Regions from separate parts of the Homo sapiens genome. Here region 1 is linked to region 2. The links come from fine-mapping of genetic effects on gene expression. Tissue or cell type: whole blood. Region 2 holds a variant in brackets; the other region holds the start of a gene. All regions are shown on one strand. Distances are between the middles of the regions.

Region 1 (8,337 bases), 58 kb before region 2:
CCCAGACATAAGGGAACAGAATTATTGTGAAGGAGAGAAGAATTCATTGCCCCTTTTAATCAATCACTAACCACACTATGTACTTACAAAATCAGAAAGTTCACAAGCAGCTTTTTTCATTACAGAGAGGAAAAGTACTCTCTTGATGTAGAAATGTATATTTTTCTGGATTATTCATTGCATAGAACTCTGTATAACAAAAACAACAGCATAATCAATATCAATAATTGGATGACCTGATTATGTAGAATCTAATTATATAGAAATTTTAAAATTTACATTGACATCATGTTTATGAAACTTTACCAGTAATAATAACAGCAATATCGTTTGCTGAGCAATTACTATGATCAGGAACTATGCCAAGCATCCTATATACATTTTATCCTTCCCACAGCACCTTGAGGGAGAGTTTATGATCCATGTTTTCCAAACAAAGATATTGAGATTTAAGAGGTTAAAAAGCTTCCCCAAGGTCACACAGCTGGATCTGAAAAATCTAACACAGATATTCTGACTCTAAAGCCTTGGCTCTTAACCAATCTGCTATTATTTTCTGACCTCTAAATTAATAGCTCTAGATAATGATTCTGCCATTGAGTTACCATTGATAAAGTTGCAGGACAGAGACTAGATATTTCCTTAATTTAATAAGGGGCAGAAATGAAAAACAGAAGTCTCAGAATTTTGTACAAACCCAATTCTTTTTTTTTTTTTTTTTTTTTTTTGAGACGGAGTCTCGCTCTGTCCACCCAGGCTGGAGTGCAGTGGTGTGATCTCTGCTCACTGCAAGCTCCGCCTCCTGGGTTCACGCCATTCTCCTGCCTCAGCCTCCCAAGTAGCTGGGACTACAGGTGCCCGCCACCACGCCCGGCTAATTTTTTGTATTTTTAGTAGAGACGGGATTTCACCATGTTAGCCAGGATGGTCTCGATCTCCTGACCTCGTGATCCACCCGCCTCAACCTCCCAAAGTGCTGGGATTACAGGCGTGAGCCACCGCGCCCAGCCCAAACCCAATTCTTTAATATCAGTTGCTCAAATGTAGAATTGCAGGTCCCTGATGTCCAAAGACTGTGACAAATTCATTGGCGACTCAGAGGAAGTGGTTGACCCCACGGTAATGCAGAGAGGAGGAGAGTTGTGACTGTGAGTCTGCCAGGAAGGCTGCCCCAGTCTGTGGACTGTTGTGCAGTAGCAGGGTTTACAACTGGGTGAGGTACAAGAGTGGTGTTCAGTTGGTCAAAACAAAACAGAGAAGTAAAAGTTTAACTGCAGGAACAAGTCTCCAGGGAAGAGGAACAACAGCACTTAGAAGTCAACAAAGAATTCTCAAAGTCATCCCCAAAGCAAAGAACCCTGGATCTACTCATCAGCAAAGAAAACCTAAAGAACAAAACTGGGAACCCAATGGTTCACCTGAGATTCTTAGGTATGGAAAAATGGCTAATTCTAAGCTCCACTCACTGGCCAGGCTAGGGGCTATTATGTAATAACATTTTCTTATGTAGAAATCACTATGAAACTGAGCCTGTGACTGAACAGATAGGTGATTAGTGAAGGCTGGCAGAGTAAGAAATGAGGTGAGGGACGACTAAGACTGTATTAACATATTTCAGAAGCCCGAAGCAATGGAAGAGACAATAGAGGTACCTCTGATTTATGTAATTCAAAGTAAAAATGAAAGGAATTTAAACAGAGTATTGTGCTTGTTTTCCCTATGATGAAAACATATTGAGTGCTTTAGTAAAGTATTAAATATTTTTAAAAATCTTGGTAACCTGATCACATGTCTAAATTTTCTATAGACTAGATAAAAAGTAGGGCCTAATTCACAATATTTACACTTGGTCTGAAAATGAGTTTGCTAACAGATCCCCTGAAGGTTTCCTAGGAAATAGTTTGTGAACATCAGAACATCTTTCGAATATATCAAATCTTAGTGATATCCCTGTGGAGTCCCCTGAATGGTTGTGTCGTATTGCTTTGGTTAGATAACAGTGGAGACCCGGTGACTCTTAATTCCAAGTCCAGAGGAAAGAATGGCAATCAATATGGAAGACTGCAATTAAGAAACATTACTGCTATTAGAATGTAAATTACCACCTTCCTCCATTCAACATGTCTTCTTTCCAAAGCCACAGACTGCAGCAGCCTCACTTTTTCCTTTCTTAGAGCCATAGTCTTCCTCAGCCTTGTGCCTGTGATGCAGCCTTTGATAATTCTCGCAATAAAAACTCACTCATGTATGACATTTAGGAGGGAGCAAAAGGTTTGATTTGCCTTGGGGCCCTGGAACCATTATAAAAATGCCTTTAAAGAGAAATGAAAGGCAAAGAAAATTAGGGGCTCAGAAACTGACTGAACCAAAAAGGATGCCAAATCACTAGGCACTAGGCTGCCTCTCCAATAGTTCTAGATAAACAGAAGACCATTTAATATTGTTTTTTTCCCAAGAATCCAAATCAGTCTAAAAGCAGTTTCGATTGGAAAAGAGGAAGAATCAAGTGGCCAAGATGTAGCCTTTCAGTTTCAATGGTCAAAGCAAAAAAAAAAAAAAAAAAAGTCTTAAGACAGACTTTGGGCATCACTGGAGTATAAACATTTAAAGAACAGGGTTCTTGTCACTCCATGTCACAAACATGCCTAAAATTTCAAGAAAATCTCAGCTTTCACTAAGCGGCCCGTCATAGCAATAAGAGGCTACACTCTTTCCACAAAATCTATTCCAGTGAAATATGGCCCACTCACATTTTCATTTAGCTTTCTCTTGGTTCCTTCATTTGGCTGTGTTCTATTTCCTATTGAGTGGAGTCTTTAGTTATAAGCTTTCCTTAGTGTTATTTAGAAGGCAGCCACTTTTCTCTCCAAGCCCCTTTCATTGAGTGTGAGCCAAATATCTGCTACTCACACTGCCTTAAATTCAGGGACTCTAAGTAATTTTTGGTAGAGGACATATTCTAAAAGAGACAGTGACCTTCTGTCTCTCCCCACAGGTCATTCTGTTTATATCCACTAGTAAGTGTAGTCTAACCAAGTTGGTGTGGAAAGTAGCTTCCAAGAAAATTTAACTTATAGCAAGGAAAGAAAAATGTTCTTAGGCAAGAACGATTCCTGCAAATTTTATAAGACGTGAAGCAGCTTAGAGTGTCCTCTACAAAGCCAGTATCCAAGACTGCTGGCAACAGACCCGACTAATTAAAGTGAGGTCCTCATTCAGACGGCCTCAGCATCACTTCAACACTTGCCTACCCCAGGCCTGCTCCAGGTCTATTGAAAAAGAATCTGCAATCCCCATGTGATTCATACTCACATTCATGTTTGAGGAGTATTGGCCTAGAGCAGTGGTTCTCAACCTTCATTGCACATAGGAATCAACCAGGCATCTTAAAAACAAATTAAGGCTGTCTGGGGCCCACCTGCAGAGAGTCAAAGTTAATCAGTTTGGGGGTGTGGCCTAAGCACTGGGATTTTTAAAAACGGCCCAGGAGATTCTGAGGTGCAAGGAGGGTTGAGAGCCACTGGCACAGGGGCAGAAGAGGCTATTTCTTCCATTCCGCCCCCTCTTTGTTGCGGAGGCAAACTGAGGTTCCTGGAGTCAGAATCTATCAGTCGTGGTGACTGCCCTGGTTGCACTGTAAGTATGGGGGGACGTCTCCACGAAAAAAAACTAACTTTCTGCCTTGTGCTCTGCAGGTCCCTCCTTCTCCCACCTTCCCCAAGTAGCTGCTCCTGACCCCCCCACACACCTTGGCAAACGACACCAGTGGCCGATAGCAACTGGTGTTTTAAAAATACTAATTTGGAGCCCCATTTGAGACCTACAACGGGAGAGTCTGCATCAGATTCGGCCTCAGATTCTACAGCATCTGACTACATTCCCAGGTGTGTGTGATGCGCAGCCAGGTTTGGAAGCTAGTGAACTCCACAGTAGGTCTAGCCTTTCACCACGTGAAGTCATTAAGGGTTTGTAAGAATGAATGAGCTGTCAAGAGAGGAAAGGCCTGGTGCAGTGTTCCTTTATTAATTATGAGGAAAGTGATTTATTGGCAATGATAATGCTTCTCTTGGAAAGGGCAAAGAATGGTTCGTCGATTGCTGCATTAGGTTTTTTCCCACTCAACCTTAATGCTCGGCTTTTACTCCTCACTGTAGTTTAAAACCAGCACGCCTTTCACACGAAACAGACTCTGGGTCTTTATTCCCAGGTGAAACGCATCTTTGAGGGAAATACCAACACAGAGACTCTGTCCCAGTTCTTGGCCGGGGGACACCCTCCCCCGAATATCTCTGTTTGCTTGTGTCAGCATCTAGTAGCCAACGTATAGTTGTGCATATCTGATACGTAGAAAAACACAGGGTGAGGATTAAAAAAAAAATCATTGATATATGCCCAGATCCTTTTGCTAAAAGAAAGCTTCCTTTAGCAGAAGGGCAGGAAGTGAGGGAAGAAAGATAGTTGGATTAACAAAGTCAGAGGTGAGAAACGGGTAGGCGAATTGGGGGTCAGGGTTCTGTCTGCGGAAGAGAAGAAGAGGGTTCAAAAGAAAAGTTGCAGCGCCTGTGTGCGCGTGTCATCGATGGGCTGGGTGCGAGAGACAGCGCTAGCGCGCGGCCACAACGCACTGCGGGGCCGAGAGCCGGCAGGAAATCGAAAAAGCTGCTCGCCGGCAGAGGCTGGGAGGCTGGAAGGGCTCCCCACCCGCTCGGTGCTCCAGAAACGCGCCGGCTTTGCCCCGACGCGATCGCCTGGGGAGCCCAAGGGGCGCGCAGGGGGCCCCGGGGCGCCCGGCAGCCGCGGGGCCGAGCGCGCGTGTGAGCGAGTGCGAGGCTGCGGGCGGCGGGCGGGCGAGTGTGCGCGGGAGGGAGGGGGAGCGCGCGCGCGCCCGGGCCCCGGCCCTCCCAGCCTCCCGGCCTCCGCGCCTGCCTCCCGCCCGCGCGCACCGCTGCCCGCTGCCGCGGCTCCCGCTCGCGCCGGCGCTGCACGGTAGTCAGCCCGCCGCCGCCGCCTGCTTTGTGCTTCCCACAGAAGATGGGAGCGACCTCTTCCTGATCGGGAGCTGTTTAAAAGGAGGGAGTGCGCCGTATTTTCTACTAGCGTGGAGGAACGGAGGAAGAATCCATTCACACTCCCCAAACCAGGTAGGATCTTATGATGGACAGGCAGAAGGCATTTAGTCAGAGACCAAGAACTATTTTCCATTTGCTGCTCATAAGGCTACACTTCCCTCTGCTTTGGCAAACGAGCGGCTTCTAAATTTGTGTGTGTGTGTGTGTGTGTGTGTGTGTGTGTGTGTGTGTGTGTGTGATGTGGTGTGTGCGCGCCTGCACATTTTTCTGGGTGTCCGCGCTTCCCAGAGTGAAATTGCTCGGGCTGGTGCGTCTGGGCGTGAGGGTGCCTGCCTGCCTGCCAGTGCAGGCTGCCGGAGGAAGAAAGGGCTGCTAAGGAGAGATGCTGCACCCTGCACCGCGCTGGGCTCTGAGGATTCAGGGCGCGAAGAGCTAAGTCCACCCCGAATGCAGAGCTGCTGGGGATCCAGGCGTCCCCACCCACTGGACTCTTCTCCGCGGACATCCCTCCTTCCGGTAATCCCTGGGGTCTTTCCCCAAGGCCACATTTCCGAGCCCCCTGTTTTCCAGCGGGCGTTGGGTGCTCATTCACCACGGACTGCGGAGAGGAGGGAGGTGTGGCGGGGCAGAGACAGACGAGGAAGAAATGTAGGGGGTAGCAGGGAGTGGGCTGCGGGGTCCACGTCTCTGGGCACTGTGCCGTGGTGTGCTTTGGGGATTCTGCACACACAGGCATCTTTCCCCAAGAGATTGGAAGGGAACTTTGCAGCTGCATTCTCTGCCTCTGGAGCTTTGCTGGCTCTTGGGGGAAATGGTCTGTGTTCTGAGATGTGAAGATATCCTTTTTGGCTCCTCCTTAATGAAGAAGAGGGCGGTCTTATAGCTGGACAGCCGGCCAAAGAAACCAAATCCGCCCAGGCGATGCTCTTGAAAATACAGTACGTGTGCATCCTTGATTCTTTAAATCCACCCCCTGCATCACCCCCGCCTCTTCTCTATCCCCCCCACCACCCCGTGGATTCTGTTGCTGTTTGATGAATGGCTTGGGCTGGCAATTTGTATTTCCCTCTCCAAAGTGGTAGTGGTTGAGTTGAGAACAGGGGTGATGAAATTTAACAAAGCATTTTTAGAAGAGAGCAATGTGCATGTTGTACGCAGTCATTGGAAAGTCATGCTTTGCGCTAGGTATCCTTTTGAAGCCCCCGAACCTGGCTCTCCTGAAGCCGCTCTCTCTCTCTCCTGCTAGTCAGCTACTAGTGGTTGTGAATATAACAATACAAACTTTGTCCTGCTGGAGGTGTAAAGACTAAAAAGAGAAAAAAAGGATATCAGTGGGAGGTGTAGTGGAAGAAGCTTTTTAAAAAATGACAGATGTGGTGAAGACAGTACAAGCGTCCTGATCATGGAGGAGCCTCTAGCTGAGTAGGTGGAGATTTCTGATCAGATCTGGTTAAAGGCATTGCTGGAGTATCTCCAGATATGAGCAGTTGAACATGCACAATCTGAGACTTGTGCGAAGATTTCCCAAGGGAAAGAGGGAGCCACCAGGAGAGAATTCTGAAAGTATACCTCTCTTTCCCATGCCCCCACCAGCGCGCGCGCGTGCACACACACACACACACACTCACATGCTTTCTCTTTCTCTCTCAAAGCTACTCCTGCAGCGAGTCAGAAAAAAAAAGGAAAATGAATCTAGATGTTTCATTCATTTCAAATAAGAAGACAAAGCCGGAAGAGGGATGATTGGTTTTAGGTTCCTCTTTCAAATCCTGTGTTACTTGGATTGAGCTCCCTGGGTTTGCTAAACTTGCTTAATTGGGAGGTTAGGCGGGTGTGAAAGCAGGAGGAAGGAAGGGAAAACTAGCTCCATCTTTGGGGCCTTGTGAGTGAGAAGGTGGGGGAGGACCAACTTATTTCATCAAGAGGCAAGATGTGTGCTCTTAAATGGTTTTCGTTTTACAAATTCTGCCTGCTTGAAGAATTCCATTTGGATCTCACGGCTCTTTAGCTAAGATTTCTCACACCTGCTATAAAAGAAGCCCTGATTTTGTCCCCTTAAAATGGTTGTTGTCTTTTTTTAAAAAAATGATTAATTCCTAGAAAAACAACAGCAACAAAAAGGACTGAACAGAGATAAACCATTATTTATTGTTGAGCTGTATAGGGCTACAAAGGATGTAAGAGTGTCATGATAATCAGACTTTACTGTCTTGAAAGCTTAACAGGGCTGAAGGAGGAGAGTAATGAACTAAAATATGAAGGCTTATTTTCTATGTATCTATCTACCTATGTCTTTACTTTAATATTATTATATAGTGGTTCCTACTGTAACGTTTCAGATTAAGCACATAGCCCTTTTGTTGACCAGGGGAAGAAAAGAGCATGGGAGTAACAGTGCTTTGACTCCCAATAAAATTACAAATGGAAAGTGAGGTATAGTCAGTAACATCTATAGGACTATTTGCAGGAATTATGTTAATTGCTCTGTTAAGCTTTCTGTGTTTTGAAAAAATAAAATATATTCCAAGAGAACTTCAGCATCTGTTAAAAAGCTATGTTTAACATGCTTTTGCCAGGCAAATATAGACTTTTATTTACTTGCAAAATAAACACATGATTCCTCTTAGTATTCAATCTATTTCTTTGACAAAATAAATGATGAGAAAAGCTGTGCAGATCCAAGGAAGTTGCAATTCCCCTTTAAAAAGCCAGCCAAGGCATTCATTTAGCTCATAGATGTGGTTGTCTCAAAGTAAGTGCATTTTGGGACATTAATGTCTGTGTGTTTTTTTTTGTTGTTGTTTTTTGTTTTTTGTTTTTTTTTTTTAATGTTGCAATTCAGTGAGACAAGTTCTTTCTTTGTGATGCCTTTTAGGTACAGGGAGGATAGTATATAGATAAGAAGGAGACTGCCCTAAAAATATGGCAATAAACAAAATTCAAACTGAAATATAAATTAGATCTGGAAAAAGAAATGCAGCCTCTAGAAGAGGCTGTTAGAGCACATATGTTGCATGTTTTATATTTTCGTAGTATGTTGCTTTCAAGTAAACATTAAATTGTCACTTTATATTTGCTAAGAATTTAGGAATCAACATGCTATTATCTCTCTACTCTTCCTGGTCCCTTTATCTTTTTGTTTTTGCCCCCAAGGATAAATGTGTTTTGCTAAAATATTATCCAAATATCACCCATACTTGTAGTTAAATCCTTCATCATAACCTCCCATACCTCATACACCCCTCATCATAACCCCTACCAAATGGTC
Region 2 (8,337 bases):
AATAGGTACTCCTGACTGATGAATCTCTGACAGATGCTTTCTCATTTGGGTCCCTGGGCTGTTTGTGACTTTACATTCCTTATTTCATTTTTAAAAGTCATTTTTCAAAATGTTTTGTCAAATATATAGATGATAGATAAATAGAGAGATAGAGTCTGTTTCTTGATAAGCCACACTGACAAATTTTGCAAACATCAGAATCTGTTGCTTCTTCCTAGGCCAAGGGAAGTGTGTCATTTATCAATCAAACTGGGTAGTAGCAGTTGAAGAAGAGCTGTAACTGTCATCCTAGCATAGTTTATAACAGCAGAAGATTCAAAACAAGCTAAATATCAATATGGGGATGGTTATGAAAATCACAAGGAAATACTATACAGCCATTTTAAAAGAATGTTTCAAATGAATAATTATTTACAAAAAGATGTTCACATATTTTATTTCATAAAAGGGACTTTTAAAAATCATATTGACTATTCTATGATTGCATTTTTATAAAAATAAAATATGTACGTAGGAAATTTATTTGAAAATTGTGTTAGTGGGTCACCTTAATGGTATGATAGTGGATATTATTTTCTTCTTTCTGTTTATCCACATATTCTGCTTTTTATAATGAAATTGTATTGCTATTGTAATTCTTTAAGTTACTTAAAATTTAACTACATACAGTAGAAAAACAAATATACCACCAATAACCAGGAACAAGACAGTACCATGACATATGGTGAGGAGTGGATCTAGATATGATACACGCGTTAGTAACATAGGTCAAAAGACTCTGCTGGTAGTGCTGAGAGACTCCTCTAAAAAGCCAGCCAAACTGGAGGCCAGATCAGCAAGAGGAATTGAAGAAGCTGACCAAGACTAGGGAGAAGGGACCAAGGCACGTTGTACTTCTCTTGAGCCTGGAATCAGGTTTGCATTGGAAATAAGCTGGAAAAGAAAAAGTGGCTCCATATTTTAAGAGCTAAAAGACTGTGGGTACTTCTGGGTTACTTTCTTTCAATAACTGCAGAAGAAATGCTGTTTCTCCAAGCTGGCACTGGTGTCAAATGAACAGAGGGTCTCCCCATTCTGTTATTTTCCTGGCAGTTGAAACATCCGTTGGCTCAGCTGTTTAATGTGTAAGTTCAGTGTCCCACAGGCCATTCTCCATAAGGCAGCAGCTACCCAACCATGATAAATTTAGTGTCAGGTCTGCATTCAGAGCACACTGTGTCCCACTTTAAGAAATTGCCCTGGGTCATGTAGCTAGTTGTAGAAGTCTGTGCAAATGCTGGTGATTCCCAGGGAAGAAAGATAATATTTTTCTTTGACCTGGATCTCTGTTTCTATTGATTCTCAGAGTGGTTCTCCTGGTGAGAATCCTTTCCACTTCTGAATGCTTTGTGCCACTTGTCTCAGGGTAGGGCCTGAGTATTGTCACATTTATGAAACTATACATATGTGGTTCTGATATGCAGCTAGCATTCAGAAGACTGATCTGGAACGGTCAGGCTCGGCAAATGTATGTGGATACATAGTAATGATAACATGAAAACTTTCAAGTGCGTAGATGGTTTCACACCCACAATCAGTTGACAGTGCTTCTTGTGTTGATTACCCACCTGTGAAAATGGATTTGCAGCAATTCCTCTTCCCTAGTCCTCACTGTGAGCAATGGAAAACTTAGTTGAGATGAGCTTTGACTATGGAATGAGACAAGCCAATTATTCCATGTTGGAACTGCCTCTGAATTTTATTATCTATAATGCTTGTTTTTATCAACTTAGAAAACTGACCTGAAAGTCATAAGCTAAACCATCAATGGGCACATTAGCTCATGACATGTATACACTAGCAGCTGACAGTGGAATACAATTCAGAAAGAGAGAAAAGGAAGGGGTGGAGTCAGACACCTTCTTGGATATCTACTATGTGCCAGGAATTACTTTAAACACTGTGTATCTGTTCTCATTCAATCCCTACAACAATACTTCACCTTTTTTCTGTTCAATAAAATTAACTGATCCACGGATCCACTCTTTGCACAGAGCACTGAAATATTCTCATCAGCAACTTTCAGTTAAGCAATATTTAGACATTACTTTTCCAGGGCCATGGAAATTGCAGATTTAAACCCTGAAACCTGTCAAACCTTGTGCAAAATGACAAAGCCCACCTCCCCTAACACCGTCCTGAACAGTGGATCCCTGTGGACTAGCTAGAAGACCAACCCAAAAAGTCAGGTCATTATCACTGGAATAATTGTCATTGATACAGCAACTACAGTTTCTCTTGCTGGTTTGCTTCTTTAACTTCTCTTGTTTTTTTTTTTTTTTTTTTTTTTTTTTTTAGTTATTAGAGATGATGGAGGTTAAAAGGATGCTGCTTAACAAAGATAAAAGCTCACTTAGACTAGTAATCTTTTTTTCTTTTTAAAGAAACATAGGATTACAGAAATATTTAATGAATTAATAAGGTACTTCTCAACACATTTTTTTCATTGCCAACTAGTTTTTCCAGGTTATGTACATAATTGAAAAAGTGTTGTGTTGCGTGTTATGCTTTGATGCAGTCTTGTTTTGTAATCCATTGCTTTCAAATTTCTATCATCATCTTCTAATTATCTTAAATTTGCACTGTGCTACTAGAATAGAATGATGGTATTATTACTATTATTACTGGCAGCAGAATTGAAACCTGGAGTATAAGTGGTTTGCAGACCATTCATAGATTCATGTAACCGTAGAGATTCATGGTTGAGTAGTTGAGCACCTGACTTCTATGGGAAAAGCAGCGCTCTTCAAGTTACTGCCTAATTAACAAACACACTTCATGGATTGAGGATTTAAAGGGGAAGAATGGTCATGCTTAGTACAATTGAATGCATATTTGCTACTAATTACATATACCTCACATTTTCTCTTAGAGACCAACTGCTTTAAAAATATTTTATTAAATGTTTTTGTTACCCTGACAGAGATACATTCCTTTAAGGGTGTTTTCAGCAAAACATTCAAGTTTTCAGGAAGTATTATCTTTCTTTCCTTTTACCCCTTTCCCATTTCCATGAAATTAAAAGGAAATGCATAGCCAAGTGTTTTTTCCCAGAAGAAAATAATAAGAAATATGCTGATTTTACAGAACAGTATGAACAGTTATAAGGGTCTATGTAAAAGGCAGCGTGTGTTCATTCTCCATGCATACTATTAGTAAAAATGAATGGACTTTCTCCTCATCTGTTTTTATTTAGAGCAGGACCTTCTTGCATTGAATTTCCTGTGTCAGCTGTGTTCTAATTCTGTAAAGCCTTTGGTTAAGGAACAGCTCTGACTCTATATCCCTATCTTTTCCTTTCCCATGTCTTAATTTTGAGTTCTTATCACTCTGATAATAAGCAGACATTTCTGAAAATCAGAAATCCTGCAGTTCCACTTTAGTTTTTCTTTCTCTTCCACTACCTTTCCTCTCTTAGAACAGTAAATATGTCAGATGGGAACCTAAAGTCAACCTCTGTGCTGTCTTGCTCTGACTTAAATGCTCTCATCCAAGTAGGTGGCATTTCTCATGAGGGGCCAGACAGAGTTATGGAACACCACAAGCAGGGTAGCCTTCGGATTTGACTTGAGAAATTAGGAAGAATCTGGTGGTCCTGACTAAGAGTGCCAGTGATAAAAATCCAGGTGAGCACAGACCATTGTCATAAGAGGGGCCTGCACACAGTTCTAGATAGGTATGTTTACAGGAATTCGTGGTCTGAATAGCAGGGCTAGATCAGATTTGAGATCTGATTTACCTAATACTAGAAAGAATGTAGTCAGTCAGGAGACTCAGGCCGGACTTTTTATTTGATAAAGAAATGAAACTGTTGATGTTGGTTTCTTCAGTAGGATTTCTCTACTTCTTTTAGACTTCTCAAAAGGTTTTTGTTTCTTTAGTTGTTGCTTTTGTTGTTGTTCCCCTACCCTCAGAAGTAAGTAGATTAAGGTAAACTTTTGTCTTAAAGAGCACTGTCTAGTTAGTCCCTGTTTTCTGGACATCAGTGGTCTGTTAAATCTATAATCAGTAGGTGAATTTGTTTACACAGACATGAGCATTTGTGCACATCTTTTGTGGGACTTTGCAGAAAAGAAGAGAGATGTTACCTCCTCAGCTCCAGAATCTTTTACTTCAGTGTCTCATTTCCTCTCTGGGATTGGGGTAGAGTTCTTGGCACAGAAGATGCTAACAACTGACTTTCTGGGAGTCTTTGCACAAATGACAACTTCTGTGGCCTTCAACTTCCCCAAGCTAGCATGATGGGTAGATTAATATGTTCCTTTTTGGCAGGAATGGGAACTAATTTTTTTTTAAAGAAGGAGGAAAAAACACGTTGTGCTAAATCAGTGATTACTATGGCAACAGGCACTCTATACATGTTAGAAAAAAAGAAGAAAAATGCAATCACAGTTCTCTAAAGAGGAAGATAGCAGAAATAGGTTCACAAACTTTATTTTCAAAAATCAATAAATATGTAGTAGGCATCCACTATATGCTCTGTATAATCTTATCGAAATGTCTAACAGAAACTTGATGATAAAACCAAATCTGCCATTTGCTTGCTACCGCTCTGTTTCAGAAATTCACTCACACACCACACACACACGCACACACACACACTAACAGAAAAACCACAAAGAAATAGTATATACCATATTTTAAATAAAATAGTTAAATTTCAGTGCCCTGATGAATCCACGTTAGAAAAAGCAAATATCTTACTAGCTTATTGGGCAGAAATACCCAAGTTAGAACAAATTACTCTCCCTAGAATGGCTGTATTCACCCCCCACCCCACAAAATGCAGGTGTTTGC[G/A]TAACATGTTGCAACCGTGTTGGACACATAGTTCTTAATGTTAGTGCAGGGTTTCTCAACTTAAGCTCACTTAGACTAGTAACCTTTTTTTAAGCTCCGTTGACATTTTAGCCCAGGTCATTCTTCTTTGTGGGGGGCTGTCCTGTGCACTACTGTAGGATGTTTAGCAGCATTCCTGAGCCCTACACAAAATGTCAGTAGCATCCCCCAGACTGCCACAAGCAAAACTGTCTTCAGTCATTGACACATGTCACCTAAGGGGCAAGTCACCACTGGTTTAGAGCTACTGGTTTCAAGTAACCCAGCTGTGTTCTCAGGGCTTGTGGTGGGGTATTTGAAATAACCCATTGCCATGAAAAGGGTAATAGGCATAAAAATAAAAGCTGAACTTTATAATATTTTGGTTGATTGGGTGATTTAGGTTATGACTATTAGTGATTTTGCCAGTTTGGCTCTTTTATGACAGATCCTGTTATATAAATAAAATCACTAATTTTCCAACTGTAGTATCTAATTGTTACAAGCTGAATTTTGGCAAATCAAATGACACAAGGATAATATTCCAATTCTTTATTTTTTCACATTACACAGTTATCCCCCTAATTAGTTTTGCTGGGAGCACCCTCATATGGGTTTATATGGAATTGGAAACAATGTTGGTAAATTAGAGAGTACATTCAAAATTATGACTACACAGTGGAAATAAGAATGTAATAATCTTTTACAGCAAAGGCTGTACAGATTGTTTTAAAGGATTAAAGAAACAGTGAACTAAGGGATGACAGAAAATCATTTGGAACATAGCAATTCCACCCTTGAACCTGTAAATATCACATTATAAATTTTATATGTGAGATTTTCATTGTATTATACTACCAGATAAAGCAACCATAAACATAGATTGCTAAGTTTCTTAATGCACATGCTTTGAGAAATGACCTCAAAGCACAACTGGATAGCTGTTGGGATTTTTTTCCTAAGTAATACAGAGCTGTGAGGTTTGAAGTGTGTTCTAATCATTGTACTTTCGGAATTTTCAGAAAAAAATAGAGGTGATGCTAACTTGTATGTTTTGGATTTTGTAACTTTGTTCTTGACATGTTATAACTCTGTAAAACGGAGCTATAAAATAGATTAGACAGTTTACATATTTTTTAAAATCTGAATGAGTTCATATAGTTCAGCTAAAGATGAAACACTGATAAAATTCAGTCAGTATCACTATTGATTTGACAACATTTCTCCTGCTCCTCTTTTGTCTGCTGACTCCTGCCAGCAAAATAAAGTAGATTTACTAGTACACTATAATCTTTAGAGTTCTTACAAGGCACAAACAGTAAGTATTTAACTCTATGCAGGGTAAGAAGAAGTGAAGTGAGTAAAAAGTAGTGTAATCTGTCCCACTTTAACGTAAACATTAATGTAAATATTAATGCTGAAAGCCCTCCTTTGCTCCACAAATCATAACCATGATTTTTTATTGTCCTCTTCTCCGTTTTCTTTTTTCCGGTACTGTGATCATTGGCATTTCATTACTAACAAACAAGAGGGAATGTGAAGAAGGCAATTTAAAGGTTATATCAAGGAATACAAAATCTTGGAAGGCTGTGGAACTTTCAAAGATATTTTTAGTAAAAGCACACAGCAAATTGGTAGATCTTCAGCAATTAGCACTTACCCATGACAATTGATACCAGCCTGTTATGTCAAGCTGCTTGTGATACCACATAGTATTACTAAGATGCATAGGATGATTTCATTTTGCCCACTTTCATCAATAAATGAGCCTAAATATTTATGTTTCCTAAACTTCCCAAGATATTTCTCTTCCTTTCTTGAAAATCTTTAGGAATAGAGGAAGTTCCTAGCTATTGGTTCTCTGTTGAGTAATGCCTAGTGGGAACGGGTAGATAAGATGGCCTCTTGAGATTTACTCTTATTTAAATGTGATGATAAAGATCTTTAGGTTTTCTTGCTTGCTTGCTTGCTTGCTTGCTTGCTTCCTTTCTCTTTCTTTTTCTTTCTCTTTTCTTTTTCTTTTTCTTTTCTTTCTTTTTTCTTTTCTTTCTTCCTCTCTTCCTTTCTTTTTTCTTTCTTTTATTTTTCATTCTTCCGTTGGTTCATTTGTTCACTCTTTGTTCATTCTCGCTTTCTTTTTTATTTTTCTCCTTCCTTCCTTCTCCTTCCTTCTTATTTTGTTTGTTTGTTTGTTTTTTTAAGAGAAGGCAACCAGCATTTTGCTGTTTCCACTTAAGGACTGAATGAGAAGAAATAAGTCAAATTTGATCATCGATACTTTGTATTTATGCAGAACTAAACAATTCTAGTGACAAAGGACATTTAGTCAGTGGGGCGATATTGGTAGAAATGAAGCCTAGTGACATGAGGCTGAGGGCTCTGCCTGAAAATGTGGAACTTTGGGTTTTGGTCTTTGCGTGATGTGGTTAACACTTTTTGTCTACCTGATTTATTTTGTCATCTGACACGTGAAGGTATTTGGTTTCAGTGCCCCCTAAATTTTCCCTCAGGTTCTATAATTTGAGGGTCTGGGACTAAGAGTTCCAAGTTGTGGATATGGAAGCAGAATGATTGCTCCAGGGGCTCTTCTAGTCTCAGAAGACTTTGAAGTAAAGACTCTAGGAAAGAAAGAGCATGAAAGTCATAATGCTCTTATAAATTTTTAGGGATTTACAGGAGAAGTATTTATGGTTCCTGTCAAATTCCTTATGGCTCTATGATTACTTCACATTGAATGGAGGGAGAGAAATTCAGCTGTAATCTCCTAGTTTGCCACCAGCCAGAACAATTGGATTTTCTTCAAATAGGAGATTAGAGCTTCCAGAAAGTATTTCTAGTTCCATATGCTGCTTTCTTTTAAAAGGACACTTATTCCTATTTATTCAAATCCCTTTATGTCCCACGAACATCACTTTCCCTTTCTGAGTAGCAAATAAACTGCTTTTCTTCAAAGTCTTTCTCCCAGAATGGAATTACTTAATTATTTGTGAGTGTGCATATGTACACACACACATACACACAGACATATGTGTGTGTGTAATATATATACACACACGCATCTACATATATATTTATATATATATATATTTTAAGGAGAATAGAATGCTCAACAGGAAGGATTAGTAGAGAAGCATACTTTAAGAGCAATATTTTTCAAGTTAGAAAAAATCCAAAGGTAATAAAAGCAACTTTCATAAAATGGTTGATCTTGTCAGTAATCTTTCTAGAAACATCTCCACAGCATGTTAAACTGCCTCCAAATATATCCACAAAGAGCCATGCGGTAGCTCCCATATTTATTGTTTGCCCTTTCAGGCAATTTGCTACCTGAGAATAGAAATGCCAAAATAAGATAAAATGTCTATCAAATTGGGTACACAGATCTTTTAAAAAAATTTACTCTACATTTTCTTAAGCTCACTTGGAGTGATTGGACAAAAGTGTTCAGATTGAAATGGATGCAGTCCCCTGATGTTAAAATGT

The links.
Region 1: it holds the start of SLC8A1, and the variant in region 2 is fine-mapped to the expression of SLC8A1 in whole blood (INTERVAL, PIP above 0.99). The same link has a PIP of 0.9 or more in neutrophils.

Annotation. Positions count from the first base shown.
Region 1 is chr2:40,448,708-40,457,044 of GRCh38, reverse strand. SLC8A1 (solute carrier family 8 member A1) reads left to right here and starts at 4,955. Exons shown (of 11, transcript NM_021097.5): 1 at 4,955-5,141.
Region 2 is chr2:40,390,747-40,399,083 of GRCh38, reverse strand. All of the region lies in intron 2 of SLC8A1 (solute carrier family 8 member A1), which reads left to right. It also overlaps the pseudogene LOC124905995. Among named protein-coding and RNA genes, the nearest start is that of SLC8A1, 57 kb to the left of the region's middle. The variant G/A (reference allele first, on the strand shown) is at 4,837.